Regions from separate parts of the Homo sapiens genome. Here all the other regions are linked to region 1. Evidence: fine-mapped expression QTL. A gene starts in region 1. Each other region holds a variant in brackets. All regions are shown on one strand. Distances are between the middles of the regions.

Region 1 (8,110 bases):
AATAGAAGTGGTGAGAGTGGGCATCCTTGTCTTCCTCCAGTTCTCAGGGGAAATACTTTCAACTTTTCCCCAATCAGTATAACATGGCTATACGTTTGTCATAGATGACTTTTATTACCTTAAGGTATGTCCCTTCTATGTCAGTTTTGCTGTGGGTTTTAATCATAAAGGAATGCTGGATTTTGTCAAATGCTTTTTATTTTTCTGTTGAGATGATCTTACGATTTTTGTTTTTAATTGTGTTTATGTGATGTATCACATTTATTGACTTGCAGATGTTAAACCATCCCTGCATCCCTGGTATGAAACCCACTTGATCATGGTGGATTATCTTTTTGATATGCTGTTGGATTTGGTTAGCTTGTATTTTGTTGAGAATTTTTGCATCTATGTTTGTCAGGAATATCGGTCTGTAGTTTTTTGGTTGTTGTTGTTATGTTCTTTTCTGGTTTTGGTATTAGCGTGATACTGGCTTCATAGAATGATTCAGGGAGGCTTTCCTCTTTCTCTGGCTTTTGGAATAGTTTCAATAGGATTTGTACCAATTCTTCTTTAAATGTCTGATGGAAATCAGCTGTGATTCCATCTGTTCCTGGACTTTTTTTTTTGTTGTTGGCAATGTTTTTTTGTAACCATTTTAATCTTGCTGCTTGTTGTTTGTCTGTTCAGAGTATTTCTTCCTGGTTTAATCTTGGAGGTTTGCATATTTCCAGGAATTTATCCATCTCCTCTAGGTTTTCTAGTTTGTGTGTGTAAAGGTATTCATAGAAGACTTGAATGATCTTTTGTATTTCTGTGTTATTGGATTTAATATATCCCGTTATGTTTCTGGTTGAGCTTATTTGGATCTCCTCCCATTTTTTCTTGGTTATTCTTGCTAATGGTCTATCAATTTTGTTTATATTTTCAAAGAATCAGCTTTTTGTTTTATTTATCTTTTGTATTTTTTTGTTTCAATTTCATTTAGTTCTGCTCTGATCTTTGTTATTTCTTTTTTTTTTTTTTTTTTCTGCTGGGTTTGGGTTTGGTTTGATCTTATTTCTCTGGTTCCTTGAAGTGTGACCTTAGACTATCTATATGTGTTCTTTCAGACTTTTTGATGTAGGCATTTAATGCTATGAACCTTCCTTTTAACATCGCTTTTGCTGTATCACAGAAGTTTTCATAGGTTGTGTTATTGCTATCATTCAGTTCAAGTAATTTTGAAATTTCCATTATAATTTCATTGTTTACCAAAATATAATTCAGGAGCAGATTATTTTATTTCAATGTATTTGCATGGTTTGAGGATTCCTTTTGGAGTTGATTTTTAATTTTATTCCACTGTGGTCTGAGAGCATATTAATATAATTTTGATTTTCTTAAATTTATTGAGGCTTGTTTTGTGCCTATCATATGATCTACCTTGGAGAATGTTCCATGTGCTGATGAATAGAACATATATTCTGCAGTTGTTTGGTAGAATGTTCTGAATATATCTGCTAAGTCCATTTGTTCTAGGGCATAGTTTAAGTCCATTGTCTGACTTGTTTTTGATGACCTGTCTAGTGCTGTCAGTGGAGTATTGAAGTCACCCACTATTATTGTGTTGCCTCTTATCTCATTTCTTAATTCTAGGAGTAATTGTTTTGTAAATTTAAAGCTCCAGTTTTAGGTGCATATGTATTGAGGATTGTAATATTTTCCTGTTGGACTAGTCCTTTTATTATTCTATAATGTCCCTCTTTGTCTTTTTAAATTGTTGTTGCTTTAAAGTTGGTTTTGTCTGATAAACGAATAGCTACTTCTGCTTGTTTTTGGTGTCCATTTGCATGGAATATCTTTTTCCATCCATTTACCTTACATTTATATGGGTCTGTATGTGTTAGGTGAGTCTCTTGAAGACGCAGATACTTGACTGGTGAATTCTTATCCATTCTGTCATTTTGTATCTTTTAAGTGGAGCATTTAGGCCTTTTACATTCGATGTTATTATTGAGATGTGAGGTACTGTTCTATTCATCCTGCTAGTTGTTGCCTGACTACCTTGTTTTTTTTTTTGTTTGTTTGTTTTTGTTTGTTTTTTATTGCTGGTGAGCTTGTGTGATCATTTGGGGTGTCAATGAATCTTGCTTTGTCATATCATCAGAATTGTTTTTCTGGTTCCTTCTCATTTGGGTAGACTATTTCAGAGGAAAGATCTGGGACTCAAGGGCTGCTAATCTGATTTTTTTTTCCTATGGGGTGATCCCTTGATGTGGTGTTCTTTTTCTTCCCCTAGAAATGGAGCTTCCTGAGAATAAAACTGCAGTGATTGTTATTGTTCTTCTGTGTCTAGTCCCCCAGTGGAGCTACTGGGCTCTGGGCTGGTATTGGGGAGTGTCTGCAAAGATTTCTGTGATGTGATCCTGTGAAGACCTGTCTTCAGGTCTCTCAGCTGTGGATGCCAGTACCTGCCCCAGTGGAGGTAGCAGGGAAGCAAAGTGGACTCTGTGAGAGTGCTGGTTGTAGTTTGTTTAGTGTGCAGATTTTCTCGAATGCTGGTTTGCTAGCAGTGAAGCTGTCATGTGGACAGACTCAGGACCTCTGGTTAGCCAGGGTGTTACAGGTGGTGTTTTCTCCTTTCTTGGAGTAGGATTGTTCTAAGTTGCTGTAATGGCTTGAGTTGGTTGACTTCCAGCCAGGAGGTGGCACTTTTAAGAGAGCATCAGCTGCGGTAGTAGAAGGGGGATACAGGCTTGCCCTAAGTTGGCCAGGGTAAATATTCAGTCGTCTCAGGTAATAGGTGAGGCCATAGAGCTCCCACAAGTTTATATCTTTTGTCTCTGGTTACCAGGAAGGGTAGAGAAAACCATCAGGTGGGGGCAGGGTTAGGCAGGTCTCAGCCTAGACTCTCCTTGGGCTTGCAGTGGCCACTTTGAGGGATATGGGGTGTGTCTCAGGCCAATGGAGTTATGTTCCATGGGAGATTATGGCTGCCTCTGCTGCTTCCTACAGGTTGCCAGGTAAGTGGTGGAAAGCCATCAGTGACAGGCCTTACCCAGCTCCCATGAAACCAGCAAGGCCAGTCTCATTCCTGCCATACTCCCCCAGCAGCCAACAGTGCCCAATTTATACCCAGGCCTCTGGTGCACAGGGCTGAGATCCTGCCCCAGGCTACAAGACTCCCTGCTGAGAGAGCAAGCATGGCTTTCAGTCCTCACCCTTCCCTTCCTGTTGCGGCTTCTGTGCTCCTATCTGTACTTCCCGTTCCCCACACCCCAACCCCCTGGACTCTGCCCAGGAAAATTTGTCGTCTTTGGAAATTATTACAAAGTTCAGCTGGAAGTCTCCTTCTCCCTGTGGACCTTCCCCAATTCCACTGGCTGCCCTCCTCAAGGACCCCTGTGAGATAAATTCAGAAATGGCTATCCTTGGCTTCCCTGGGGAACAAGAGTGCCTGCAGTTCTTTTCCCACTTCTTTTACTTTTCTATTTCACTGGGCTCTCTAAATTCATTTCAGCTCTAGGTAAGGTTAAACTCTTCTCCCGTCTTCTGGATTTTCAGGTTCTCCAGGGCCGATGTATGTTTGGAGATGGATTTCCCCCTCTCACACTTCAGGCACTCAGTTTTTTGGCAGTCTCATGGAGTTTTCAGTGGCAAGCCGCTTATTTCAAATGGTCTGTGAATTCTTTTGGTTTTTCTGATATGTTCCTGGTGTGATTCTTCACCAATTTTATCTCGAATTATATTTTATTCTACATTATGATTGCTATTATTTCCTTATTTTTCTTTGTATTTATGATATATTTCTGCCATTTAAAAAATTTCTTACTACTTCTCTGACATTTGACTTTTGGTCTTTTTCTATTAAGTAAAGATTTTAAAATAATGTTTTAATTTGAGAAACTTTAGTTTTTAATTGAACTACTAAAACGTTTTACACTAATTATATTATTCTTTCTGATCTTGTCAGAGATTCTCTATTTTGCTCACCTATTTCTTTTCTAGCTGATGTTTATTATATTGACTATATTATTATTATTTTTTCTTTTAGGGATTTGGAAAGGATTCCGTGATGGTTAATATTGAGTGTCAACTTGATTGGATTGAAGGATGCAAAGTATTGTTCCTGGGTGTGTCTGTGAGGGTGTCACCAAAGGAGATGAACATTTGAATCAGTGAGCTGGGAGACACAAACCCATACTCAATCTTGGGGGACACCATCTAATCAGCTGCCAGTGCAACTAGGATAAAATCAGGCAGAGAAATTTGGAAAGACTAGACTGGCTGAGTCTTCTGGCCTTCATCTTTCTCCCATGCTAGATGCTTCCTGACCTCGAATATCAGACTCCAAGTTCTTTAGCTTTTGGACTCTTGGACCTTTGGCCACAGACGGAAGGCTGCACTTTTGAAGTTTTGGGACTTGGACTGGCTTCCTTGCTCCTCAGCTTACAGATGGCCTATTGTGGGACTTCACCTTGTGATTGTGTAAGTCAATACTCCTTAATAAACTCTGCTTTATATATATATCTATCCTATTAGTCCTGTCCCTCTAGAGAACCCTGACTAATACAGATACACAGAAAGTTCAATTTTCTAAATTTTAAGCATTTTAAAACTTACTTGGGTCTATTTTTCTCTCATCATCTATGAACAGAGTAAAACAGTAACTATTATCATTCACATCCCTCCAGCTCAGATGCTACATTTGGCATAATTTTCACATTACTATTTTTCCTTCACACTGTTTTGCTGATATAATCTCAGATTTCAGATCCAGGTTATTATTAATTATTAGCTTAATATTTTGTATTTTTATCTTGTAAGTACTACATTTGAAATTTTAAAGCTAATCACTCTATAGAGCTAAGAATTCTATTTGCTGAGTTATTTATATTTATTTCTTAGTTGACTTAAGTGACTAGTCAAATAGTTTTTTTCACAAAGAATTTTATATGACATTGCCTCTCAGTCTAGTGTATCTAAAAACAACTTTCTGTCGCTCTAGCATATAAATATGAGCTTTTCTAACTAAAATGCCTTGGATCTCAATCTTTTCTGCCCAAAGCTCTGTAAACCTTTGTTTTTCTTAGCATTTAATATTGCAAATAAAGTCTGATCTACAGACATTCTGTTTTTTTGTTCCTTTATGGTTCATGGGATTATTTCATACGACAGAAATGTATTCTGAGGGGTACTGGAATATATCACTTCAAAATAAGCCTCTTTGGAATACAATTTTTTTTTATTTTTATTTTTTTTTGTTAAAGGCCACTGAGAAAACTTCTGCCTATTTGTCTCTAATTAATCTGTCTTTGGCTAGTCTAATTCACAGGGCCTCTGCTGGAGAACCTAAGATGAGTAGAGGAAATGATTTGTTGTTTTCCTCTCCTGAAATACCTAACTGTGGGTGTTTATATTAGCAATGATTTTTATCTTCACATTTTTTTCCTGATCTTAGATTGTTTCTTCCATAACATTACACTCCTCATATTAATCTTTTTCAAGGGAATGATAGAGAAATTTATCACAACAGCTGTTTATTTTATTCACTAGCTCAGGCAAAAAGAGCTCGTCCAGGCTCTCTGATTGTCTTGACCATCACCAGACAGATAAGGTGCCCTAAGTTTTGGAGTGGAAGGGTCACTGTAAGCTACCCGCCTACTTTCCATAAGTGCTGATGTTCCACAGGTAGGACAAAAGTGAGTTGGTCCTTTAGGCTTCCATCAAATCTTCGACATGGGCACAGATGCTCCTTGACTTACAATGGGGTAACATCTGGATGAATCCATCATAGGTCAAAAGTATCATTAGTCTAAACGCATTTAATACACCGATAAACCCATCTTAAAGTCAAAAAACCATAAGTCAAACCATCGTAAGTTGGGACCAGTCTATGTAGGATCTAGCAGATTATTTTAACTTTCTATATGTGGATGATATTCTTCACAGTTTCCAGAGCTGATGCAAACTTCCTGTTGTTTTGATATTTGGTCAGCCATTTCCAGCTACAAATATGGGAACTCGGGAGGATCTGTGCTCTAATCTTCAGTCTACCATACTCCCAGCACTTTAGGGGTCTTAAGTCTGATAAAGTTTTGAAAAGGAAAGAGAAAAGCTGCATTCTGTGCTCCTGAGACAGGGAAGCCCAGCGGAAATAAAATATCCAGGATGTGGAGCGGGCGAGATTGTGCACCATTAGTATGTAAAGCCTTGATTCAGATGGATGGTTAGGAGTACAGTGCCAATGAGAGAGAAAGAGAGAGAGAGAGAGAGAGAGAGAGAGAGAGAGAGACACCTCTGTTTGGACCGGGCATCTTTGCTGTTTGAAAGAAACCTTTCATCCAGACAGTTTGAGTCTGATCTTACCTCATTCTACTGGTGAGCTGTACTATGTCTTGCACAGTGCTGCCTCCCTTTTTTTCTGTGGCTCTTTGACACCCCCACCTCCCTGCCAGCCTGGTGTGGCTGATCAAGCTGTTCAAACAACTGGAAGACATCAGAAGTTAAACACTCATTATTTTAATTTGATGCTAATCATGTGTTAATGAGACTAATCCTTGCAATGATTCAGGTAATTTGCTTAATGGCTGCCCAGAGTACAGATTATAGCAATCAGTCACGTCTGATAAGATGTCTGTTGTGGAGGAGGCTGTCAGGTGAATGAAGTGGGAAAAGGCTCAGGAGTAAGGGTCTGATGTCAGGCATGTTCTGTGTTGGAGGGTAGGAGTTAAGGGAAGGAGACAGCTCAGAAATCCAAATTTTCAATGAGAAATGAACATCCTAGTGTTCTTGTTTAGAAGGAAGAAGTTGGTGTTGACAGGCTTTCTCATCTTATAGTGACACATACACACTGAGATAAGCATGACAGTTTGAAGAGAGTTGGATATACAGTTCATTTTGTTCTGGAGAAATCAGTACAATTATTAGTAGACATATTCCTACAACTATTAAATTGAGTTAAAAATCTTTTTTGCTATCAAAATGTCAAAGAAAAGATGAAACCACTCAGAGCAAAGGAAGATACATTTTTTTCTTCTCATCTTAGGAAATAGATGCTAAAATCAACATTCTAAACTGAAGCATTATTATGTTTATAGTATACTCAAGCATTGTAAGTCTATAGTCAGTCCTTCATATCCATGGGTTTTGTATCCATGTTTTCCATCAATCATGCCTTTGAAAATGTCAGAAAAAAAAGTACACCAGTAAAACTAACACAAAACAAAAAATGATACAGTATAGCAACTATTCACATAGCATTTACATTGTATTACATTTTATGAATAACCTGGAGATAATTTAAATTATAGGGGACAATGTGAGTTGGTTATATGCAAATACAATGCCATTTTATATAAGGTACTTAAGCATCACTGGTTTTTGTAATCTGCAGGGGCAGCGCAGGGTAGGACAGATGTCCTGGGACAATCCCTCACAGATACTGAGGGACAACTGAAGATACAGTCTCTGATGTGCTTAAACTAATCAGTTAGTCCTATGTTGGAGGCATGCCACCGTCTACAACTTTGCTGGATTGAATCATGATATATTTTTCAATAAAATATTGAAACTCAATAAATTATAAAATGTACAGATATAGAAATAACAAAACACTTCTAGAGTACATGTTCAAAAATTCTGCCGATTATTTGCTTTGCTTTAATTTATTTGTACTGATAGAAAATTTAAAATTTTATAGATTTATAAATCTAGATATCTGAATTGTTTCATTCCCATTCAGTATTTTGGTGAGGAGAGAAAAGTGAAAAAAAGGAGATAGATTCAGGCATGAAAAAGATTTGTAGTTTATTTTATGTTTAACTTAGTTGTTTTGATACATTCATGATACCCTCTTCTATCTTCTGTGGAATGCAATTTAGTTCAATGTAACAACATTTCTGTAGTATATCTTATCTTCAAGGAGGTGTTATTTAGTTTCTTTTGTTTCTTTATTTGTTTTGTGTTTTACAAAACAAGGGACAAGCATCTTTCTTGGGAGCAAAGAATGTGCCCATCTTATGACAGTGAGGGTAGGAATGGACAGGGAAGGAAAAATTGGAGTCAGCTGTTTGAGGACTAGATGTTCAGCTGCTCTAACTCAGAATGTGAATTTACAATAAGGATGTAGAGGAGATACCGTAACATG
Region 2 (8,110 bases), 63 kb after region 1:
ATCGCTCATTCTAACTTATAAGTGGGAGCTAACAACTAGGTGCACATGAACGTAATGATGGAAACAATACATGCTGGGGACTCCAAAAGCAGGCAAGGTGGGATAGACATGAGGGTTGAAAAATTGTCTGTTGGGTACAATGGTAACTATTTGGGTGATGAGTACAACAGAACTCCAAACCCCCATTATGCAAAACATCCATGTAACAAATCTGCACATATACTCCCTCAATCTAAAATAAAATAAAAATTTATAAAGTAGAAAAAATGAACTAAATAAATAAATGCCACAGTTTGAGGGTGATAAGATGGACAGGTATGCATGTGTAGTGGAAAAATGTGAGGGAGATTGCTATTTTATAAAGGGAGGTCAAGAAAACTCCCTAGTCATGTGACCTTTGAGCAAAGACCTGTAAAAAGTGAATTTTGTGGATAGATATGTGATTGATTGTATATTGACCAAGATGATCTTGACTTCCCTTCATCTTGACTTAACTTTAGACAGGTTTTTTTATGAGTATGGGCCCTTGACCTCCCTTTTCTTTGAGCATTTCCTTTAGAAATTTTGCAATCTTAAATACCTTCTCTGTTTCTTTGAAATGTAAATTTTCTACAACCAAGGAATGTCTCTCCAAAAGACCTGGAAACCTTTTCTTTTAAATGTAATAAGCTAGAAACACAGGGCCCTTATCTCCCAGTCTCTGTGAAAGGGAAGGGGGGCAATAAATGACAATTAGCAAACACAGATGGTCTATTGGCATTGACCAACCTCCTGGCTAACTTTCTCCAGTACTTTTGCACTATCTCACCTCTGAGCTTAAAATCTCTCCTACTTTTTGTTTCAACCTATCTCTCCTTTTGCAATGGACTCGATCCTTATTGCAATAATTTTGAGTAAAGTTTTTCTTTTTCTTTTTTGGAGATGGGGCCTAGCTCTGAACCCAGGCTGGAAGGCAGTGCCATGAACATGAATACTATAGCCTCAACCTCCCTCCCATCACAGCCTCCCAAGTATCTGGCACCACAGGTGAATGCCACCATGCCTGGCTAGTTTGTTTTTTCTCTTTCTTTCTGAAGAGACAGGGTCCCACTCTGTTGCCCAGGCTGCTCTTGAACTTCTGGGCTCAAGTGATACTCCCACCTCAGCCTCCCAAAGTTCTGGGACCAAATAGTTTTCCTTGCCTGATGAATCACTCCAGAGCATTTTTTTCCTTCACAGTTTAGAGTATGAGAGAAAGAGAAAAGTGAAAATGGCCCCAAGAAATTTGACTTGAGCAATTTAAAGGAAGTCGTTGTCACTGATTCGGAAAAACAAAATCGTTTTGGAAGGAAGAAGAAAATAAATGAAGTCACCTTTGCAGCTGTTACATTTGAGTTATATATTAGATATCTAAGAGGAGAGGTAAAGTGACTAGTTGAAAGTAAGAATCTGGAGTTCAAGGAAGGGTACTGAATGGAAATATGAATGTTTGCAAGTGTCAGTATAGGCATAGTATTCACATCCATAGGGTGAAATGAAAGTCAGTGGGTTTTGCCAAAAAGAGGAAAGAGGTCTAATGATTAAGCCCTGGAAAATTTCATTATTATAAGATGATAGGAGACCAGAAAAGTAAAATAACCAGGTACAGTAAATAAGATGAAAGAGGAACAAGGAGAATAGTGTCCTGGAAGCCAAATGAACAGGGTACTACAAGAAGAAGTGATCAACTGTGTGGAAGGCACAGATAGGTTGAATTAAAGATAAAAATTATGAATGCAGGACTTGATTTATCAAAATGGACATTGCAGGGACTTTGACCAGAGCTTTTCGTTGGAATGATGAGAACAAAAGCCTAATTTTGGTGGGTTCCAGAGTGAAAAAAGGAGAGGAAATGGAGACAATGAGTACACACAACTATTTTGAAGCTTTTCCATAAATGGAAGCAGAGATATGCTATAGTGGTTGAAGAGGAATATGAAGTTGAAGAGTATTTCCCTCCCTCCCTCTCTCCCTTCCTCCCTCCCTTCCTCCCTCTGTCCCTCCCTCCCTCACTCCCTCCTTCCTTCCTTCTTTCTTACCTTCCTTCCTTCCATCCTTCCTTCCTCTCTTTCTTTCACTTTCTCTCTTTCTTTTCTTTCATGCGCGTCCGTGTGAAGAAACCACCAAACAGGCTTTGTGTGAGCAATATAGCTATTTCACCTGGGTGCAGGTGGGCTGAGTCCGAAAAGAGAGTCAGCGAAGGGAGATAAGGGTGGGGCCGTTTTATAGGATTTGGGTAGGTAAAGGAAAATTACAGTCAAAGGGAGTTTGTTCTCTGGCGGGCAGGAGTGGGGGTCCCAAGGTGCTCAGTGGGGGTGCTTTTTGAGCCAGGATGAGCTAGGAAAAGGACTTTCACAAGGTAATGTCATCACTTAAGGCAAGGACCGGCCATTTTCACTTCTTTCATGGTGGAATGTCATCAGTTAAGGTGGGGCAGGGCATATTCACTTCTTTTGTGATTCTTCAGTTACTTCAGGCCATCTGGGCGTATACATGCAAGTCACAGGGGATGCGATGGCTTGGCTTGGGCTCAGAGGCCTGACATTCCTGCCTTCTTATATTAATAAGAAAAATAAAACAAAATAGTGTTGAAGTGCTGGGGCGGCGAAAATTTTTGGGGGGTGGTATGGAGAGAGAATGGGCGATGTTTCTCAGGGCTGCTTCAAGCGGGATTAGGGGCGGCGTGGGAACCTAGAGTGGGAGAGATTAAGCTGAAGGGAGGTCTTGTGGTAAGGGGTGATATTGTGGGGATGTTAGAAGAAACATTTGTCATATAGAATGATTGATGATGGCCTGGATACGGTTTTGGATGAATTGAGAAACTAAATGGAATGACAGAAGGAGAAAAACAGGTATAAAAGGTCTAAGAATTGGGATGACTCAGGATATCTGATTAGAGACTGCCTAAGGAGATTCAGCATAGTCCTGCCAGCAAAGATTATTTATTTAAGAGTTAAGAGTGGCAGTTTGGGGATAGCACCAGGAGATATCAGCTGTGATGGCTTGGAAAAACAGTGTAAACTGGCAGTGTAAACAAGAGCAGGGCATGTATGAGTAGTTGAGAATGGTGAATAGGAGTATGACTAGACAGAAGATAGTAGGGATGACAAGTTTTCTGGGGCACAGTCCAAGTTGGTCTGGTGTCTGGAATGAGACTGGGGCCTAATGAAAAGGAGCGTCTTCTATACAGGAGCTTAAATGGGCTGTACCCTGTAGCATTCTGAGGACAGGCCTGAATTCTGAGAAGGGAAAGTGATAAAAGTATTGTCCAGTCCTTTTTGGTGGCTGAGCTTGGTGAGGTGTGTTTTTAAAAGACCTTCAGTCCATTCTACTTTTCTTGAAGATGGAGGACCGTAAGGGAAATAAAGGTTTCACTGAATACTAAGAGCCTGAAAAACTGCTTGGCTGATTTGACTAATAAAGGCTCATCTGTTATCAGACTGTATAGAGGTGGGAAGGCTAAACTGAGGAATTAAGTCTAACAGAACGGAAGAAATGACTGCGGTGGCCTTCTCAGACCCTGTAGGAAAGGCCTCTACCTATCCAGTGAAAGTATCTACCTAGACTAAGAGGTATTTTAGTTATCTGACTCAGGGCATGTTGAGTAAAGCTAATTTGCCAGTCCTGGGTGGGGCAAATCCTCGAGCTTGATGTGTAGAGAAGGGAAGGGGCCTGAAGAATACCTGAGGAGTAGTAGAATAGCAGATGGAACACTGAGAAGTTATTTCCTTGAGGATAGATTTCTACTATGGAAAGGAAATGAGAGGTTCTAAGAGGCGGGCTAGTGGCTTGTGCTATAGTATAACCTGCCTTTACTGGTGTGTGGCGATTAGGCCTGGGTGGAACCGCCATCAATAAATCAAGCATGATCAGGGTGAGGAACAGAAAAGAAGGAAATTTGGGGAAATGGGGTGAATGTCAGGTGGATCAGAGGGATACAG[T/C]CATGGGGGTCAGGTGTGGTATCAGGAATAATGTGGGAGGCCGGATTGAAGTCTGGGCCAGGAACAACGGTAATTGTGGGAGACTCAACAAAGAGTGAGTACAGCTGAAGGAGCCGGGAAGCAGAAAGTATATGCATCAGGTATGAGGAAGAAAATAGATTTTGGAAGTTATGAGAACTGTAGAGAGTGAGTTGAGCATAGTTTGTGATTTTGAGGGCCTCTAAAAGTATTAAAGCAGCGGCAGCCACTGCACGCAGACATGAGGGCTAGGCTAAAACAGTAAGGTCAAGTTTGGACAGAAAGGCTACAGGGTGTGGGCCTGGCTCTTGTGTAAGAATTCTGACCGCGCTAACCATGCCTAGGAAGGAAAGGAGTTGTTGTTTTGTAGAAGGTGCTGGGGTTTGAGGGGTCAGTCAGACACGATTGGCAGGGAGAGCACGTGTGTTTTTATGAGAATTATGCCAAGATAGGTAACAGTTGAGGAAGAAATTTGGGCTTGATTGAAGTAATGGGGGCTGTCTGTGAAGCTTTGCGGCAGTACAGCCTAGGTAATTTGCTGAGCTTGATGGGTGTCAGGGTCAGTCCAAGTGAAAGCGAAGAGAGGCTGGGATTAAGGGTGCAAAGGAATAGTAAAGAAAGCATGTTTGAGATCCAGAACAGAATAATGGGTTGTAGAGGCAGGTATTGAGGATAGGAGAGTATATGGGTTTGGCACCACGGGGTGGATAGGCAAAACAATTTGGTTGATAAGGCGCAGATCCTGAACTAACTTGTAAGGCTTCTCTGGTTTTAGGACAGGTAAAATGGGGGAATTGTAGGGAGAGTTTATAGGCTTTAAAAGGCCATGCTGTAGCAGGCGAGTGATAACAGGCTTTAATCTTTTTAAAGTGTGCTGCGGGATGGGATATTGGCGTTGAGTGGGGTAAGGGTGATTAGGTTTTAATGAGATGGTAAGGGGTGCATGATTGGTCGCCAAGGAGGGAGTAGAGGTATCTTATACTTGTGGGTTAAGGTGGGGGGATACAAGAGGAGAACGCAAAGGAGGCTTTGGATTGGGAAGAAGGGCGGCAATGAGATATAGCTGTAGTCCAGGAATAGTCAGGGAAGCAGGTAATTTAGTTAAAGTGTCTCAGCCTAATAAGAAAACTGGGCAGGTGGGGATAACTAAAAAGGAGTGCTTAAAAGAGTATTGTCTAAGTTGGCACCAGAGTTGGGGAGTTTTAAGAGGTTTAGAAGCCTGGCCATCAATACCCACAACAGTTATGGAGGCAAGGGAAACAGGCCCTTGAAAAGAAGGTAATGTGGAGTGAGTAGCCTCCGTATTGATTAAGAAGGGGATGGGCTTACCTTCCACTGTGAGAGTTACCCGAAGCTTGGCGTCCGTGATGGTCTAGGGGGCTTCCGAGGCTATCGGGCAGTGTCAGTCTTCAGCCGCTAAGCCGAGAAGATCTGAGAAGGAGTCAGTCAGAGAGCCTTGGGCCAGAGTTACAGGGGCTCTGGGAGTGGCTGCCAGGTGAGTTGAACAGTCCGATTTTCGGTGGGGTCCCACAGAGCTGGGACGTGGCTTAGGAAGAATCCCGGGCTGCGGGCATTCCTTGGCCCAGTGGCCAGATTTCTGGCATGTGTAGCAAGCTCCTGTGGGAGGAGGTTCTGGAGGAACGCCTGGCCACTGCGGTTCAGGCGTTTTGAAGTTCTTGTGTGCTGGAGATGTGGCTGGGGTTTGTCTCACAGTGGAGGCAAGGAATTGCAACTTTTTTCTATTATTGTATGCCTGAAGGCGAGGTTAATTAAATCCTGTTGTGGGGTTTGAGGGCCGGAATTTAATTTTTGGAGTTTTATTTAATGTTGGGAGCAGATTGGGTAATAAAATGTATTTTGAGAATAAGACGGCCTTTTGAACTTTTAGGGTCTAGGGCTGTGAAGCGTCTCAGGGTTGCTGCCAAACAAGTCATGAACTGGGCTGGATTTTTATATTTGATGAAAAAGAGCCTAAACGCTTCTGATTTGGGATAAGGAAAAAGGAGCATTAACCTTGACTCTATGCCTTTAGCTCCAGCCACCTTTTTAAGAGTAAATTGCTGGGCAGGAGGGGGAGGGCTAGTCACGGAACGAAACTGTAATCCGGACCAGGTGTGAGGAGGGGAGGTGATAAAAGGATTATAGGGTGGAGGAGCAGAGGCTGAGGAAGAATTGGGACCTAGCTCGGCCTGGCGAGGAGCAGCCTGGGGAGGAAGGGAGAGGTCAGATGGGTCTGTAGAAAAGGAAGATTAGAAAGACTCAACGACGCTTGGGGTTGGTACTGAGGGGACAGGTGGGAGGGAAAGAAGGAAGATTTGGGACGAGTTGCACTGGGCACAGAGACTAGGAAGGGACTGATGTGTAAAAGAATGCCTGGACGTCAGCCACCTCAGACCGTTTGCCTATTTTATGACAAGAATTATTTAGATCTTGCAGGATGGAAAAATTCAAAGTGCCATTTTCTGGCTATTTGGAACTACTGTCGAGTTTGTATTGGGGTCAAGTGGCATTGCAGAAGAAAATAAGGCATTTAAGTTTTAGGTCAGGTGTGAGTTGAAGAGGTTTTAAGTTTTTGAGAACACAGGCCAAGGGAGTAGGAGGAGGAATGGAGGGTGGAAGGTTGCCCATAGTGAAGGAAGCAAGCCTAGAGAAAAGAGAGTAGAGAAACAGAGGGAAGGGGTTCGGGGGATCTTACCTTCCAGAAAAGTGGGGAAAGGGGTTGGGGCACAGAGATAAGAGGTCGGGGCATGGAAATAAGGGATTGGGGTGCAGAGATACGAGGTTGGGGCGTGGAAATAAGGGATTGGGGCACAGAGATAAGAGGTCGGGGTGCGGAAATAAGGGATTGGGGCACAGAGATAAGAGGTTGGGGCGTGGAAATAAGGGATTGGGGGTTCTTGCCCCCTAGAAAAGCAGGACTTGCTGCTAAGGGTGAAGGAGAAGGGGTTGGGGTACTTGCCCCTGCCCCAGGAAAGCGGGACTTGCCACTAAGGGTGAAGGACCAAGGCAGGCGTCCCTGCGTGGTCTGACACCCTTGAAACGTCAGTGTATAATCAGAGAGGCGTCCCTGCAATTATTAAACACCAAGGGAAGGCTGCCTTCCCAGTCCGTGACCAGCGCCGGAGTTTTGGGTCCATGGATAAAACGTGTCTCCTTTGTCTCTATCAGAAAATGAAAGTTATTGAAATTAAGAGAAGAGAGAGATTAAAGAGTGGAAAGGAGAAAGTGGTTGAGGGACAGTGAGAGAGGTTGGAGAAGAGAGTAAGAAGAGGCCGCTTACCTGATTTAAAATTGGTGAGATGTTCCTTGGGCTGGTCAGTCTGAGGACCTGAGGTCATAGGTGGATCTTTCTCACGGAGCAAAGAACAGGAGTACAGGGGATTGAGCTCCCAAGGGAGGTCCCCTGATCCGAGTCACGGCACCAAATTTCATGCGCATCCGTGTGAAGAGACCACCAAACAGGCTTTGTGTGAGCAACATGGCTGTTTATTTCACCTGGGTGCAGGCGGGCTGAGTCTGAAAAGAGAGTCAGTGAAGGGAGATAGGGGTGGGGCCGTTTTATAGGATTTGGGTAGGTAAAGGAAAATTACAGTCAAAGGGGGTTTGTTCTCTGGCAGGCAGGAGTGGGGGTCGCAAGATGCTCAGTGGGGGAGCTTTTTGAGCCAGGATGAGCTAGGAAAAGGACTTTCACAAGGTAATGTCATCACTTAAGGCAAGGACCAGTCATTTACACTTCTTTTGTGGTGGAATGTCATCAGTTAAGGTGGGGCAGGGCATATTCACTTCTTTTGTGATTCTTCAGTTACTTCAGGCCATCAGGGCATATACCGGCAAGTCACAGGGGATGTGATGGCTTGGCTTGGGCTCAGAGGCCTGACTCTCTCTTGATATAAAATATTATAGTATGTTTGTGTGCTGATGGGGGATTTAGTAAAATGAGGGATTTAATGTGATTAGAGAATAATTTATGTCTATTAAAGGAGGAGTTCATCCTAAAGAAAGTCATGGGCTGTACGTGGTGGCTCACGCCTGTAATCCCTGCACTTTGGAAGGCTGAGGCAGGCAGATCACCTGAGGTCAAGAGTTTGAGACTAGCCTGGCCAACATGATGAAACCCCATCTCTACTAAAAAT
Region 3 (8,110 bases), 26 kb after region 1:
ACACTCAACATCCCCAAAATTCAGAGTTTAAGATGAGGAAATCCTTACCATTGCCAAAAGGAAAAAAAGAAAAAAGAAAAAAGATTTGAGTGTTGCTAGGACCATTTCATTCAGTAAATGTTTATCAGGCATTTGCACTTTTCTACTTTTATTGCTCATTTGATTTCTGCTGCTTGAAATATTCTCCACTCACTGTCTTTCCCTGAAGACAAACCCAAATGTCACCTATGTTTGAAGCTTTCTTTAATTGCCTTTTTACCCTGAACCCATGAGCCCTTCATTCTCCCTTTACCAAAATTCTCTACCATTTATTATGTACAGGATTGTTTAACACATGTCTTAAAAACACATCCTGTGCTATCAGTTCGAAATCTCCACCTTTGAGAGTTAGGCTTGTCTTATTCATATTTGCATTGTTTGCAGTGCATTGAATCTAGTGGTGGCTCAAGAAAATATTATGTTCAATTTAAAAATAGGTGTTCTATTTCTAGTTTTGCAGCATCTTACTGAACACCAGCACACACTGAAAATAGATCACATATTTCCCTGGCAAACAATTTACGATTTGAATTTTCAATGAGTCCAGCGTTGATGGACTTGTGACAGGACATGTGATTATTTGGTGGATTCAGAATGAACCTATTAATAGCTTTTCAGATAATTCATCTAACGTGGCTGTAGGAGCTTCACAAAGTAATAAAGAAGTCGAGATTTCAGTTAAGAGAGTATCAGACAATATGACTCCTGATGGACTGGGCATACCAACTTCTAGGAAGCTTTAGCAGAGATTTCATTGCAAATGGTAGAGAGAGTTAGCCTCTCTCCTCTTTCCCTTCGCACTATGTCCTAGGATTGGTTGGTTTTTAAAATTCTTTGTCAGAGAACTCCTAACACTGAAACAAAATAGGTAACAATGTTAGAAAATTGCATGAGGGAAATCTAGAAATGCTGACCTTTCATTTGAGAGTAAAGCACCTGAATCAGCTTTCAGATTGTCGAAAAGAAAACACAGCTATTTCCAAAACAACTAAAAAAGTAAATTAAAAAAACTATATTTGGAGAAGAAAATAATAGAAATAATCTGGAATTAGAGAATTAAAAAGTATAGTATAAAAGAGCTTAAACTGAGCAAGTTTTATTTTTTCAAGATAAATGAATGATGGATCTTCTTTGGGATTTGATTGGTAGACATTTTTTGTGCGTTTCTGAAAATGGAGCTGTTCCATAAGACATGAATTGGTCTTCAATCTAATAACAATTTCTAACACTGAACAGAATCTAGGAATCACTTCTGTTTTGAAGTTTCTATAATATGTAAGAATTATGACAACAGTAATGCCAGGCTTACAAATAAATAGTTGTTAAATAATAAGATAAATATATTAAAATAAAAAGCATTTCAAAATAAGCTCTGTACTCTCTAAATATCCACACTGTATTATCACCTTATTATATTTATTTTTACATATTCATTTCTGCATTTATTTTTATAAATCAATGCTCCCATCTACATCTATATTTATCTATCTCTTTATATAGCATCCTCAAGACACAAGGCAGATGCCACGTTCCAGTATGTTTTATGGCACAAAAAGGTACTCAGTAAATGTTAAATTGAATAAGTAAATATTGAAAGATATTGAGCTTAGACAGGCATAAATATAGGATCACACTGAAGGTGAGCTATGTGAAAATGTATAAGTGAAATCTGAAGTGATGGTTTCAATTTTGCTAATAAATAATTTTACAGCAACAGTTTCTAAGGGATGTGAAAGGACAGTGCTTTACCTAGTATTATTTGCTGGCATGAGTGAAATACATTTTAAGAGAAAATTACATGGATGAAACTGTCAACTTTCTTTTTTTTGTATTTTATTATTATTATACTTTAATTTTAGAGTACATGTGCACAACTTGCAGGTTTGTTACATATGTATACATGTGCCATGTTGGTGTGCTGCACCCATTTAACTCATCATTTAGCATTAGGTATATCTCTTAATGCTATCCCTCCCCACTCCCCCCACCCCACAACAGTCCCCGGTGTGTGATGTTCCCCTTCCTGTGTCCATGTGTTCTCATTGTTCAATTCCCACCTATGAGTGAGAACATGCGGTGTTTGGTTTTTTTGTCCTTGCGATAGTTTGCTGAGAATGATGGTTTCCAGTTTCATCCATGTCCCTACAAAGGACATGAACTCATCATTTTTTATGGCTGCATAGTATTCCATGAAGCTATATGTATATGTATATGTGCCACATTTTCTTAATCCAGTCTATCGTTGTTGGACATTTAGGTTGGTTGCAAGTCCTTGCTATCATGAATAGTGCCGCTATAAACATATGTGTGCACGTGTCTTTATAGCAGCATGATTTATAATCCTTTGGTTATATACCCAGTAGTGGGATGGCTGGGTCAAATGATATTTCTAGTTCTAGATCCCTGAGGAATTGCCACACTGACTTCCACAATGGTTGAACTAGTTTACAGTCCCACCAACAGTGTAAAAGTGTCCCTATTTCTCCACATCCTCTCCAGCACCTGTTGTTTCCTGACTTTTTAATGATCGCCATTCTAACTGGTGTGAGATGGTATCTCATGGTGGTTTTGATTTGCATTTCTCTGATGGCCAGTGATGATGAGCATTTTTTCATGTGTTTTTTGGCTGCATAAATGTCTTCTTTTGAGAAGTGTCTGTTCATATCCTTCACCCACTTTTTGATGGGGTTGTTTGTTATTTTCTTGTACATTTGTCTGAGTTCATTGTAGATTCTGGATATTAGCCCTTTGTCAGATAAGTAGATTGCAAAAATTTTCTCCCATTCTGTAGGTTGCCTGTTCACTCTGATGGTAGTTTCTTTTGCTGTGCAGAAGCTCTTTAGTTTAATGAGATCCCATTTGTCAATTTTGGCTTTTGTTGCCATTGCTTTTTGTGTTTTAGACATGAAGTCCTTGCCCATGCCTATGTCCTGAATGGTATTGCCTAGGTTTTCTTCCAGGGTTTTTATGGTTTTAGGTCTAACATTTAAGTTTTTAATCCATCTTGAATTAATTTTAGTATAAGGTGTAAGGAAGGGATCCAGTTTCAGCTTTCTACATATGGCTAGCCAGTTTTCCCAGCACCATTTATTAAATAGGGAATCCTTTCCCCATTGCTTGTTTTTGTCACTTTTGTCAAAGATCAGATGGTTGTAGATATGTGGCATTATTTCTGAGGGCTCTGTTCTGTTCCATTGGTCTATATCTCTGTTTTGGTACCAGTACCATGCTGTTTTGGTTACTGTAGCCTTGTAGTATAGTTTGAAGTCAGGTAACGTGATGCCTCCAGTTTTGTTCTTTTGGCTTAGGATTGACTTGGCAACGTGGGCTCTTTTTTGGTTCCATAGGAACTTTAAAGTAGTATTTTCCAATTCTGTGAATAAAGTCATTGGTAGCTTGATGGGGATGGCATTGAATCTGTAAATTACCTTGGGCAGTATGGCCATTTTCACGATATTGATTCTTCCTACCCATGAGCATGGAATGTTCTTCCATTTGTTTGTATCCTCTTTTATTTCATTGAGCAATGGTTTGTAGTTCTCCTTGAAGAGGTCCTTCACATCCCTCGTAAGCTGGATTCCTAGGTATTTTATTCTCTTTGAAGCAATTGTGAATGGGAGTTCACTCATGATTTGGCTCTCTGTTTGTCTGTTATTGGTGTATAAGAATGCTTGTGATTTTTGTACATCGATTTTGTATCCTGAGACTTTGCTGAAGTTGCTTATCAGCTTGAGGAGATTTTGGGCTGATACAATGGGGTTTTCTACATATACAATCATGTCATCTGCAAACAGGGACAATTTGACTTCCTCTTTTCCTAATTGAATACCCTTTATTTCCTTCTCCTGCCTGATTGCCCTGGCCAGAACTTCCAACACTATGTTGAATAGGAGTGGTGAGAGAGGGCATCCCTGTCTTGTGCCCGTTTTCAAAGGGAATGCTTCCAGTTTTTCCCATTCAGTAACTGGCAAACTGGATAAAGACTCAAGACCCATCAGTGTGCTGTATTCAGGAAACCCATCTCACATTCAGAGACACACATAGGCTCAAAATAAGGGGATGGAGGAAGATCTACCAAGCAAATGGAAAACAAAAAAAGGCAACGGTTGCAATCCTAGTCTCTGATAAAACAGACTGTAAACCAACAAAGATCAAAAGAGACAAAGAAGGCCATTACATAATGGTAAAGGGATCAATTCAACAAGAAGAGCTAACTATCCCAAATATATATGCACCCAATACAGGAGCATCCAGATTCATAAAGCAAGTCCTTAGTGACCTACAAGGAGACTTAGACTCCCACATAATAATAATGGGAGACTTTAACACCCCACTGTCAACATTAGACAGATCAACGAGACAGAAAGTTAACAAGGATGTACAGGAGTTGAACTCAGCTCTGCACCA[A/C]GTGGACCTAATAGACATCTACAGAACTCTCCACCCCAAATCAACAGAATATACATTCTTTTCAGCACCACACCACACCTATTCCAAAACTGACCACATAGTTGGAAGTAAAGCACTCCTCAGCAAATGTAAAAGAACAGAAATTATAACAAACTGTCTCTCAGACCACAGTGCAATCAAACTAGAACTCAGGATTAAGAAACTCACTCAAAATCACTCAACTATATGGAAACTGAACAACGTGCTCCTGAATGACTACTGGGTAAATAATGAAATGAAGGCAGAAATAAAGATGTTGTTTCAAACCAATGAGAACAAAGACACAACATACGAGAATCTCCGGGACACATTCAAAGCAGTGTGTAGAGGGAAATTTGTAGCACTAAATGCCCATAAGAGAAAGCAGGAAAGATCTAAAATTGACAACCTAACATCACAAGTAAAAGAACTAGAAAAGCAAGAGCAAACACATTCAAAAGCTAGCAGAAGGCAAGAAATAACTAGGATCAGAGTAGAACTGAAGGAGATAGAGACACAAAAAACCCTTCAAAAAATTAATGAATCCAGGAGCTGTTTTTTTTTTTTTAAAAAGATCAACAAAACTGATGGACCACTAGCAAGACTAATAAAGAAGAAAAGAGAGAAGAATCAAATAGACACAATAAAAAATGATAAAGGCGATATCACCACCGATTCCACAGAAATACAAACTACCATCAGAGAATACTATAAACACCTCTACGCAAATAAACTAGAAAATCTAGAAGAAATGGATAAATTCCTCGACACATACATCCTCCCAAGACTAAACCAGGAAGAAGTTGAATCTCTGAATAGACCAATAACAGGCTCTGAAATTGAGGCAAGAATCAGTAACTTACCAACCAGAAAAAGTCCAGGACCAGATGGATTCACAGCCAAATTCTACCAGAGGTACAAACAGGAGCTGGTACCATTCCTTCTGAAACCATTGCAATCAATAGAAAAAGAGACAATCCTCCTTAACTCATTTTATGAGGCCAGCATCATCCTGATACCAAAGCCTGGCAGAGACACAACCAAAAAAGAGAATTTTAGACCAATATCCTTGATGAACATTGATGCAAATATCCTCAATAAAATACTGGCAAACCGAATCCAGCAGCACATCAGAAAGCTTATCCACCATGATCAAGTGGGCTTCATCCCTGGGATGCAAGGCTGGTTCAACATACGCAAATCAATAGATGTAATCCAACATATAAACAGAACCAAAGACAAAAACCACATGATTATCTCAATAGATGCAGAAAAGACCTTCGACAAAATTCAACAACGCTTCATACTAAAAACTTTCAATAAATTAGGTATTGATGGGAGGTATCTCAAAATAATAAGAGCTATATATGACAAACCCAAGCCAATATCATACTGAAACTGTCAACTTTCTATGACTGTTTCCCTGGTTTCTAAGTTAATCATTAAATTATTTTAGGCCAAACACAAAAGTGATTAAGTGCACTAATGCCCTATCTCTACTTTGTATCCTGAGCAGACTTCTTCAGCTGTCTGGGACATACATACCTTTTGCTCTATTGTACTGATGTATTTTCCTTACATTCATTCAAAAGGAACCTTCTGACCTCACTCCAACTAGGAGACATCTGTTACTGCAGTCATAAGCTGAGGACTACAATTTAATAACCAATAGCTGACAAAGAAAAAAATATTTTAAAAACTCTCCAAAAGGATGGTTTAATTAACAAAAAGAAGACCCCTAAAATGACAAAATAAACCCCAGAATAGCTTTCAGTTAAAGAATAAAATAAACACTTGTCAGTCACCACATTTAAGCTTGAATTAGGCTTTTGAAGGTACCTGTAAAAACCTTATACTTCCCTCTCGCTCTTGCCTTAGAATGACCATCCTATTATATTTTCAAATCCAGGTTCACAGCAACATATAGATGACATTATATTAAGATAAAAGTCTGTATATTTCTTATGATAGCTTACTATTTAAATGGCATGTCTGGTTTAGGATGTCAACAGGACATGTAATAATTGGCAGTAAAGGCACAAGGGTAAATTTGTACAAGAATTTTGTGCTAAGTTTTATGCAACTGGTTCCCAGAAGCTACGGGAAAATAAGGAATTCTGAAAGTGATTTAATAAAGAATAATGAATATTTTAAATACATACAAAACCTTTAATGTGCCTAAAATTGGGCCTTAAGGGGTGATAGGGCTTGTAGTATTTTGATTTTGTCTTGCTTCTCTGTAACAATACATTCCGGATATCCTTCATGGTTATAGAACAGATCATTCAGATGTATGTGAATGGTATTGAACATATAATTTGGGTAGATTATTGTAAAACACCAGTTTCACTGGAGTCACATGATGAAAAAAATCCAGATTTTGAATTAAAGAATGCTGGAATTGTGTATGTATTGGTGATTGGGTGAAGAGAAGTCCTATCTAAGGGACTACTACTGTGGGTTCAGAAATAGGTTTCATAGACTGACTTTCATGAAATATAAAGCTATACTAGAATCATCTACAGAAAAAGGACTAGGCATACCTGAATAAAAAGTGTCTCAGATATTTCTGATTAGAGAGGGATGTTAATCTTTAGCCACAGACCGCTCACCTTCAATGGAAACTAAAATTAGGAACACTTTATTATGTCAACTTCCCTGGATCTGACATTTACAACCTTGTCTTTGAAAAGTTGCTAATCATGATTTAATTGAGATATTCCTTCTTCTCATTTTTCTGTATCTTGTGTGTGCGTGTGTGTGTGTGTGTGAACACTGGTAAGTAAAAAAATGAGACTATATAAATACACATCTAAATATGAAATATCAGGACCTGTTTTAGGAGATTTAGAACCAAAGCATAAAGACATTCAGAATGCAAAATTAGAGTAGTATAGTTGGAGTGTAGGGAGGATAACAGAGCCTGGAGAGGGGAGAAGGCAGAAAGAAAACAGTGTAAGAAAACATTTAGGTGGAGGATGGTAAAAACAAGCACTGATGATTATGTTTTTTTTTTTTTTCATCTGTGTCGTGACTATTCTGCTCTGTTCCACCTTTGATGTCTTATAAGGAAGAACAATCAAGATAAAGTTGTTCCCATCATGTGTGGTTTGAAGCTATTATGCTAATTGTTGGGAAAGTCTTATTCCGCACAAGAAATGCCTGAGATATGTCTTGCAGGCTATGGTGTAAATCGCCATGAGAATTGGTTCAAAAGCATCAAAAACCAACATTTTTAAGCTCTTGTATTTTTCTCCACTCCTATACTTTCCAACGGCGTATATTTAGAAGTTGGCATGTTGGGTTTTGAGTAGCTGTGATCTTGTAAATATTCTTTCCTCGGCCCTGCTAAGAAAAGCCATGTCTGATAATGCTCTATAGATGATAGGGAATCTGGATGGTACCGTTCATTCTACTTGACCCTCTGTTCCTTGACTGACTGAATGTGTGTGTGTGTGTATTCTCCAGAGCCTGCAATTTCTCATCTTCTCTGATGATATTTCTATAAAACCAATAAACAACCACTTCTACTTTCATAATTTTGAAGTCCATCCAGTAGACAAATCACCATTCTTTCTCTTCTATTTGGCCTTTAGTGAGGCAGTCATGTACTTGGACCAACCAAGAAGTAAGTGACTAGGATCAT
Region 4 (8,110 bases), 85 kb after region 1:
ACTTCGGCATTTGTAATTTTCCTAAGGACTCCATGCTCATGTATTGATATTCATCCATAATTAAATATATATGTTTGATGTCAATATTCCTTTGTTAGTCAGTGGAAATATATGAGTTCTCTGTTCATTGAAACCAGCTCAATGGAAATATTCTTTGACTTGGTGATTAAAAGAAAGGAAATTTGTCTTGCTACTGATGTCAAAATTGTATCATTAAAACATTTTCTGAATATAGAACAGAGTAAGAAAAAGTTTAAAATGTTACTTATTATTTTTTCATCTTCCTCTTTTCTACCTCAAGCTCAAATTTTTAGAAACAATTCCCTTAATTTGTTCTAGTTTCAAAAAGAGAATTGCAGGGATATATGGAGATACATTTATAGAGTTTGAGTAGTTTAGAGGTATGTTTAAAGGGGAGCATTAATCTATCAATACAGTGAAAAAGCATCTATAAGTGATGAGATTGTATGGTCTATATCTGATATAAATAAGCTCACTTAATATCTACATATATAGTGAAGACTACTCATAATCTCAAGAGATTACTATCCAGACATGTGAAAATTGTATATCCACTTGCAAAATTCCCAAATAACATGAAGAATGCATAAATGCAAATTGAGAGGTTTACAACAATAGCTGTCAGAGGAAAACCTGAGCTAATTGGTGAAAGGTGTTAGAGGCAAGGTTCTGAAGCATGAATGAGAATTGGATGAATGAGAAATAAAATAGAGGGAATGTGAGAAGGTCTGCATGAGCAAAGGCTCCAAAGAAGGATGGTGTAAATCTTATTTAATGGAAAAGCACATCAGAATAGGGGCATTTGCAATGAGGGTAGTGGTCATAAAGAGTAGGTGACTTTGAATATCAAAATAAAGAATTGATTTTTATTTAGAATTGTGTATCGTTTCAGTCTATGAGGCCATTATATTTTTATCTCATGTTTTATAGGCAGAAGTATCCTAATCTTTATATGAACCCTTGCAGAGCAAGGGTAAGCTTCTTATCTAATGTTACAGGAGCCGTGAAACAAGCACAGGATTAAGACTTAGAAAGCGTGGATTTGAATTCTGGGGCTGTCGCTTACTAATGGATGATTTTTGCATGTTGCTTAACCTCTCTGAATCTTAGTTTCTTTATGAACATCATAGTACATAGCTGTTGAGATTGGAGAGCCGAGATAGTTAGGATTAATCATGCTTCTTTCTTCCACTCCAGTTTTGAAACCAATGGAGAGATCAACACAAGCTTTGGAGAGGAGATCAAAATATCTGCTTCACTGGAAGGAGTTTTGGATTGCTCAACAAGGTTCAGATCTGTGGCATAATCAGGCTTCCTAATCCTGAACCAAAGTTGTTGTTGTATCTCGTAGTTGTCACCTGAGAGCTGACTGACCTGTTTCAAGCATATGTGAGATGCCTTCTGGAAATGCCCGGAAGCATATAGCTAATGGGATGAGGCATTTCAAGGTTGAACTTCAGCAAGAGCAAGTGGGATAAAGGGCAAAAAGCAGCACATTCCTTTCAAAATGTCCCCATTTTAAACTGCAGGCTAGAGTAGACAATGGAAATATATGACATATAAAGAAACTGGTGAGATTATTAAGCAGAGGGCCTTCTGGGGAGCATTAAAGAGTGAGCAAGAAAAATTTCTCAGACATGGTGATTCTAGAATTGAAAAATCATAGACTCTTTCTCTTCTCTCTCCTTTGAGAGTTTCCAGATGAATTCTTGGATCTGGCTACTGAGCAAATATATGAATAATAACCTAGGATCAGCTGGGTATAAGAGGTTTCCACCAGAAGTCCATGAAAACCAATGTTTTTAAGCATCTATTGGGCAACTACCATAAACAATCAGCAAGATGTTTAAACAGTTGATTCTGCCGGCGGCCCAACCAGTTTTTAACTGTATCACGAAAACTGGCCTGGGGGTACAGTCTGAGATTATTCCAGCCCTGCTTTTACACCGCCAGAAATTCCCTTTCTGTTACAAATTTCTACCCCAGAGAGGTTTGCATATTCTTGGCATTTTCACTGTGCATCAGTGAATCAGCTAGCCTACGGGCCAAGGAGAGGGGAAAAAAATCCCAAATAAAACTCAACCCAGTTAGGATGTCTTCATCTATTTTTCAGTGGGAAAAAATACAGCTGGACTCAGTGACTTCAGTCAAAAGCAAACATTACTAGTTGCTTCATTTTTCTAATTTTTATTTTTGACTCTCAAGTTTTGGAGGGCATAATAAAGACATAGCCTCAGCAAAGTCACTTAGAAGATTGAGTTCGTTATTTTGCAAAGCTTGGGTAGTGACACTTCTGCAAAATGCACAAGCACATGAGCAGAGAGATGTGTGAATTCAGGAAAGCAGCCAAATGCACATCAGAGCTGAGGAATGTCACAGCGAAATGAAGAAAACTTGTAAACACCTATCTGTATTTTTAGGTAGAGAATGTTCTAACATATTGCCAATGGGTGCTGCCTGTGTGTTCCTTCCCCTAAGCTTTAAACTCAACTGATATTAAAGGTGATTTGAAAACAATGAAAATTGACAGCTTTATTAATCTAGATGGTGTGTGTGAGAGAGAGACAGAGTGTGTGTGTGTGTGTGCGCGAACACGCACATGATGTGTGACTGCTGCATGTATAGACTGTGCATTTTTACTGTGGGCCTTGCACAGACGAGGGAGCCCTCTACTGATTGGAAATTGTACTAGATGTAAACTATAGAGGGATGCTTTCAGTGCGTTGCTCATGTATCCTCCAAAATGCAGACATTTTGCTTATTTATTTTTCAAATTATGACAGCAGATGCTTTATTTTCGGAAAGGAACTAGAGATGTCAGTCATCATGTGCATACAAGTATATGTCATTCCTTCTATTTAAGGTAAAATTCTTTGATTAAAAATATCTACACTCAGTCTTCAACCTTTTAATATAAAGATGATTGTAACACAATTAAACCACAAATGTCTACATGACTGTGATGAGAATGTGTGACAGAGATCATAACCGCGTTTATCTATTATCATGGTTTATCACACACTATTTTTTCCCTTAAGCGTGTATTTCTTATTTTATACTTTTTTTTTCTCAGAGCATAAAGACAGTTTTAGGGGTGACAATTTGAACTCATTCATGTGGACAGGTTTGTATGTGCTATATTTTCATATGCATAGTTAAATCATATTATTAAGTCCTGTGTACAGACAAGATTAATATTTAGTTGCTTTTGAGTTTAGATACCTGATTTTTAACCTCATGTCTTTATAAAATAATTATAGTTCAACTTTTCATTAATTTAAATCAATGAATAAAAGTAAAATATGGCTGGGTGCACTGGCTCACACATATAATCCTAGCACTTTGGGAGGCTGAGGCAGGAAGATCGCTTGAGTCCAGGAGTCCAAGACCAGCTTGGGCAACATGCCAAAATCCCAGCTCTACAAAAAATACACCCAGGTGTGGTGGTGCATGCCTGTAGTCTCAGCTACTTGGGGGGTGGAGGGGGGAGGATGGTTTTAGCCCAGGAGGTGGAGGTTGCAGTGAGCCGAGATCACACCATTGCACTGCAGCCTGGGCGACAGAGTGAGATCCTATCTCAATAAATAAATAAATAGAAATATTGTTCGCTTATTTTCAACATGACTGGCCTAATCCTATTATGGGATAGTCTCTCTTACCCTAAACGAGTTTTTTAATAGATTGTTTATTATTAGAATGCCAATTATTCCAATTTTTAACAAAGAATTAACATTTTTCTTGGAAGTTAGCTTAAACGTTTATTAGTTTTATATATAAATTTTACAAGAGAGCCTTTATTAAATCAAATTTTTTTAGAATTAAACTCAGTTTGAGTCTCATTCTGTACATAACTTTAACCCTAACCGTAGTTGAAGGCACTGTGTGTTGTTAAACAGCTACACCTGGAATTAACATGGCAGCATAGCTGACTGGGACATGACAGTGACACAGCTTTAACATCTGCCATCTTTTGACCACCAGCATTAATTTTGTTTCTACATCCAATGTCCTCATCCCTCACCAATCTGTCACTCTTTCTGTGGTTCCAACATTACAAAATAGCCATTGCCTTTATTTCATTGAGGATAAAACACATAATGTCAACCTAGGATGATCAATTTACTCTGCCATTAACAGCCACCATTTATGAAATGCCTACTGTGTGCCAATCCCTTTTCAAAAAAATGACCCAAACCTTAGAAATCTGCATGGGAAATCTCACTATTCCAGTTTGTCGGTTGGTATTCTTTTTGTTTGCAAATGACAAATTGTACTCAAACAAAGTTAAGCAGAAGAAGGGGACTGTATTACAAAGACACTGGAGTATCTCATATAATCCCAAAGGTCAGGTATTGCTTTCTCAAATGACATGTCCTAATAGCTTCGCCGAGGTTTCATTTATTTCTTACTATGAGTTCACTGAAAGTTAGGTGTGGATAAAAGTATCAGTCATTATTTCTGAGTATTAAACTACAATGATTTTTGGATATGGCTAATTTCTAATATCCCTAATTTTAATTTTGTTTAAGAGAGAAAATCCTTTTTTGCTGATTTTTCTCTAATGTTTTTCACACATATTTGAGTAAAAATAAATGCCAAATCAGTTTATATGCCAGCTAAAGAGTTTCATAAACTTGCTACATAGCTTGTAATGCTTTCAAACTAAAGGAGTAGGCAATAATCAACTATAATAAGTGCTATAGAGTTTCACATTTAGTTTTTATTTCTGTCACTTGTCTATGATTCCACAACAAAG[T/C]TCTGGCAATGGTCTGTGGTATCCCCAGTTCCTTCCCCTTGTGGCTGAAGAGCTGGTCAGTGCAGTGACTGGGGAAGTGACCGCAGAAGGAGGGCTGGCAGGATTGCCACAGCGGCGGCTACTGTGCCTGTCCTCATAGTTTAAGCATGTCTCTATGTTGCTGGTGGAACAAGTGGTGACTCTCTGAATGTAAATGCTCCCAATCTGGTTTAATTTACCACCATCACTGGAATCTCCCTTTCATTCTAGCTTGTCTACTGGAATCTGCTTTAGATTCTGCTCTGGTCTCCAGCTCTGCATAGGAATGCCCTGTATATTAAACCTGAATAACAATAATTCAGTGTATTGATGGACAACTTACATTATTAGCATGCAGTGCTGGGATTAGAATATTAGGTGGTGAGATCAAGGATAAGGTGAGATAAGATCATTTAGGATATCTGGTTTCTCTACATTACTGAGAAGGTCATCAGGGGCAGGGATGGGAAAGGTTGAGTTGGCTATGCATTTCACTTACAGTAAAGACCTGCTTTAGTTAGACTGCTCTCCTATTACTAGATAAAAATGAGATCCTGTTGTATGATTGTTGGGGAGTATGTGCCATTCACATAGCCTATGTAGATAGCATTCCTTAGAACATAACCCCAATTACAGTGCAATGCCCTAGAACTGCTGTTACTTGAGTTTGCCTAATAATAGAGATGGATCATGCAGGGTCTGTGCTCTGTTCAATGATCAGAAATGGATACATAAAATTTGGGCGCAGATATGAAATTTGTACAGGCAGAGGAAATTTAATCAAGCCTGAAAAAGAAATGATTACATGTTACTTTTTGGAAGGAATCATTTAGTATGCTACATTTCCAATGAGTTAATTTAACTGTCTGGGGAAAAAATTCCATGAAATATTATGCTCATGTACACTCACCAAAGGAAGAGTATTATTTTAATTTGGAAGCTGTTACTCCTCTTCATATATAATCACTAGGTGAGCAAACTGATTCTTTCATATCATACAGTTGGCAACCGAATAAAAACAGGCAGTTACCCTGTATGTACGTTTTCAGCACATTTTGTCTTGTGATAGGATTGAGTTCTAATGCTTTCTCTTTGTTATTCATAATGGTGTAATTTTTGCAATATATTTCAAAGTGGAGGACTTTCCAAACCTTGTAGCCGAAGGCCTTGAAAGCATACTGTCTCAGGGGGTCATTGGACTGAAAACATGGTTCTGGTTAGCGAGCACAGCCAGCACAGGGGTGAAATGCATTCTGCCCAGAGAAGGCCTGGGCTGAGACATTCGGTTGAACATGTCTCAGTTCCAGTCACCTTCCCAGTCTAGGAATGACCAGAATACCTTTTAATCATACAGCCAGTTTGGTCTCACTAAATTCTGCTGTAAACTCCATATATTGCTTCTGGAAATCTCTTAGACATTCTATTAACTCTTGAAGCCTGATTTCATTTCCTGGACACTGGTTCCCTTGAAAACCTGATGTCTCTTGAGATTTAAATATATAAAGAATAAACTTACAACATGACAAATATATAAAAAATAAACTTACAATGGAGATGCTTTTAAGAATAAAGAAAGAAGGTAATGTTGATAAATCATTACCTTCAGTGCCTGTAACATAAAAAATACTCCTAAGACATCATTATTGCCATGACTCTTCCGGGTTTAGTGTTCAAGTGAAATTTTGTCAACTGTCCTTAAATCCTAGATAGAGTACTCATCAGTGCTAAATAAATTTAACTACTCTAGGTGTCAGCATAGATAATCATATAATGATATGAAAATTTAAAATTCAAAGTTGGCAATTACTTTTCCATCTGATTTAAGGAGTTAATGGATGATTGTAAACTTGGTCATCTGTTTAACTCAAGTGTTTCAGTATGTAGGGTACCCTACAGAGATTAAGACTTGGGGTCCCATGATTTGGAGTCAGAAACCTGAATTCAATTCCAATTCTTCCATTTAGTAGCCATATGTTTCAAAGTGATTCACAATTGCTACAATATCCATATTCTGTAACTCTTCCTAAATACTCTTCTTTGACAAGAACTCTGCAAAGCCATTTCATGTACAGTAAGAAGAACAAAAGTTAAGAACATAGAATTTAGCATCAGACAGAACTGGTTGGGTCCCATTTTTAACACTCACTAGCTATGTGACCTTGGACAACTTCCCAAACCTCTAAAACTCAGTTTCTTCCTCTGGCTACTAAAATTAAAAATAGTATTAATCTTATAGTTGGCTGTGAAGATAAGATCAATTACAGATGAATGCTCATAGCACAGTGCTTGCAACATGCTACATTTTGAAAAAATACTAATTTATTTTATTATTTTCTCATCACTAAAGTTGAAATAATTATATCTTCTTTGTCTATGCTATAGGTTGTTTTGAGTATCAAATGAGGCAATGTGGTATATAAAACTATACATATAAAAAGGAAATTTATAAATGATTTTCTTGAATTTTCTTGGGCAGAAACATACTTGGAAAACAGTGCCAAATGCTAAGGCTTAGAAAGTGTTTTGCCAGAAGATATGTTAATCTTAAGGTTCTCTTCTGTCTACTACTTTAACAGTAAGAAAGTAAAACTGGGACAGTAGTTACTCTTACAAAGCTATCACTCTCTGTCAATGACAAAGCTACATTGTCCTAAGTCAATAAAGTAACATTTATTGATGTCATATATACAAAATCACCATCTCAATTAATTTTTTCTTTTTCAATTAATAAATGAGACACTGTATTTTGTTGTTGTTCTTATTGTTCTCCAAATAGGAAACCTTTAGTTTCTTAATATTTTATCTCCCTTAAGATTCCCTGAAAATTAAAAAAAAATGAAAAAGACTATTAACCCAGTGATAAATATTCATTAAAACTTATATACCTAGAAATGGGATTCTTTTCATAGACAGGTTTCTATGTTTTTTATATTCTCCTAGGCAGCTTTCCAGATTTTCATTCTTGAATTGATAATCTAAGGTCTGATCACCGTAAAGAATTGTGTTAACACTGTATTAGAGTCTTAAAATAGTTTGGAGAAATTTAAAATATATATCTGTATAAAGTTACTATGCAGATGCTACTTCTATCTTCCAAAAGTCTCAAAATTCTTGATGCAAATAAAAAAGTGCATAATATTTTAATATAGGTTCATATTGATTTTATGAGACTCCTCTGAAAATATTTAGTACACTTATTGATATGAAATTTAAATTCAGGCTTTTTTTCCATTATACTGGCCAATTGAATGGAATTTCATCCAGACTGAAATATTCAAACAAATAATAAAGGCACACAAAAAGACATAAGTAAAG

Evidence for each region.
Region 2: its variant is fine-mapped to the expression of LINC00989 in unexposed skin (GTEx, PIP 0.93).
Region 3: its variant is fine-mapped to the expression of LINC00989 in whole blood (GTEx, PIP above 0.99).
Region 4: its variant is fine-mapped to the expression of LINC00989 in whole blood (TOPMed, PIP above 0.99).

The regions. Positions count from the first base shown.
Region 1 is chr4:79,489,137-79,497,246 of GRCh38, forward strand. LINC00989 (long intergenic non-protein coding RNA 989) reads left to right here and starts at 3,457. Exons shown (of 4, transcript NR_038826.1): 1 at 3,457-3,638; 2 at 4,016-4,449.
Region 2 is chr4:79,551,855-79,559,964 of GRCh38, forward strand. All of the region lies in intron 3 of LINC00989 (long intergenic non-protein coding RNA 989), which reads left to right. Among named protein-coding and RNA genes, the nearest start is that of LINC00989, 63 kb to the left of the region's middle. RefSeq lists enhancers at 6,677-7,674, 7,675-8,110. The variant T/C (reference allele first, on the strand shown) is at 3,960.
Region 3 is chr4:79,515,354-79,523,463 of GRCh38, forward strand. The region is part of intron 3 of LINC00989 (long intergenic non-protein coding RNA 989); the gene reads left to right. Among named protein-coding and RNA genes, the nearest start is that of LINC00989, 27 kb to the left of the region's middle. The variant A/C (reference allele first, on the strand shown) is at 4,447.
Region 4 is chr4:79,573,923-79,582,032 of GRCh38, forward strand. It overlaps LINC00989 (long intergenic non-protein coding RNA 989), which reads left to right. Exons shown (of 4, transcript NR_038826.1): 4 at 1,219-2,538. The region is part of intron 1 of LOC107986294 (a long non-coding RNA gene); the gene reads left to right. Among named protein-coding and RNA genes, the nearest start is that of LINC00989, 85 kb to the left of the region's middle. The variant T/C (reference allele first, on the strand shown) is at 4,778.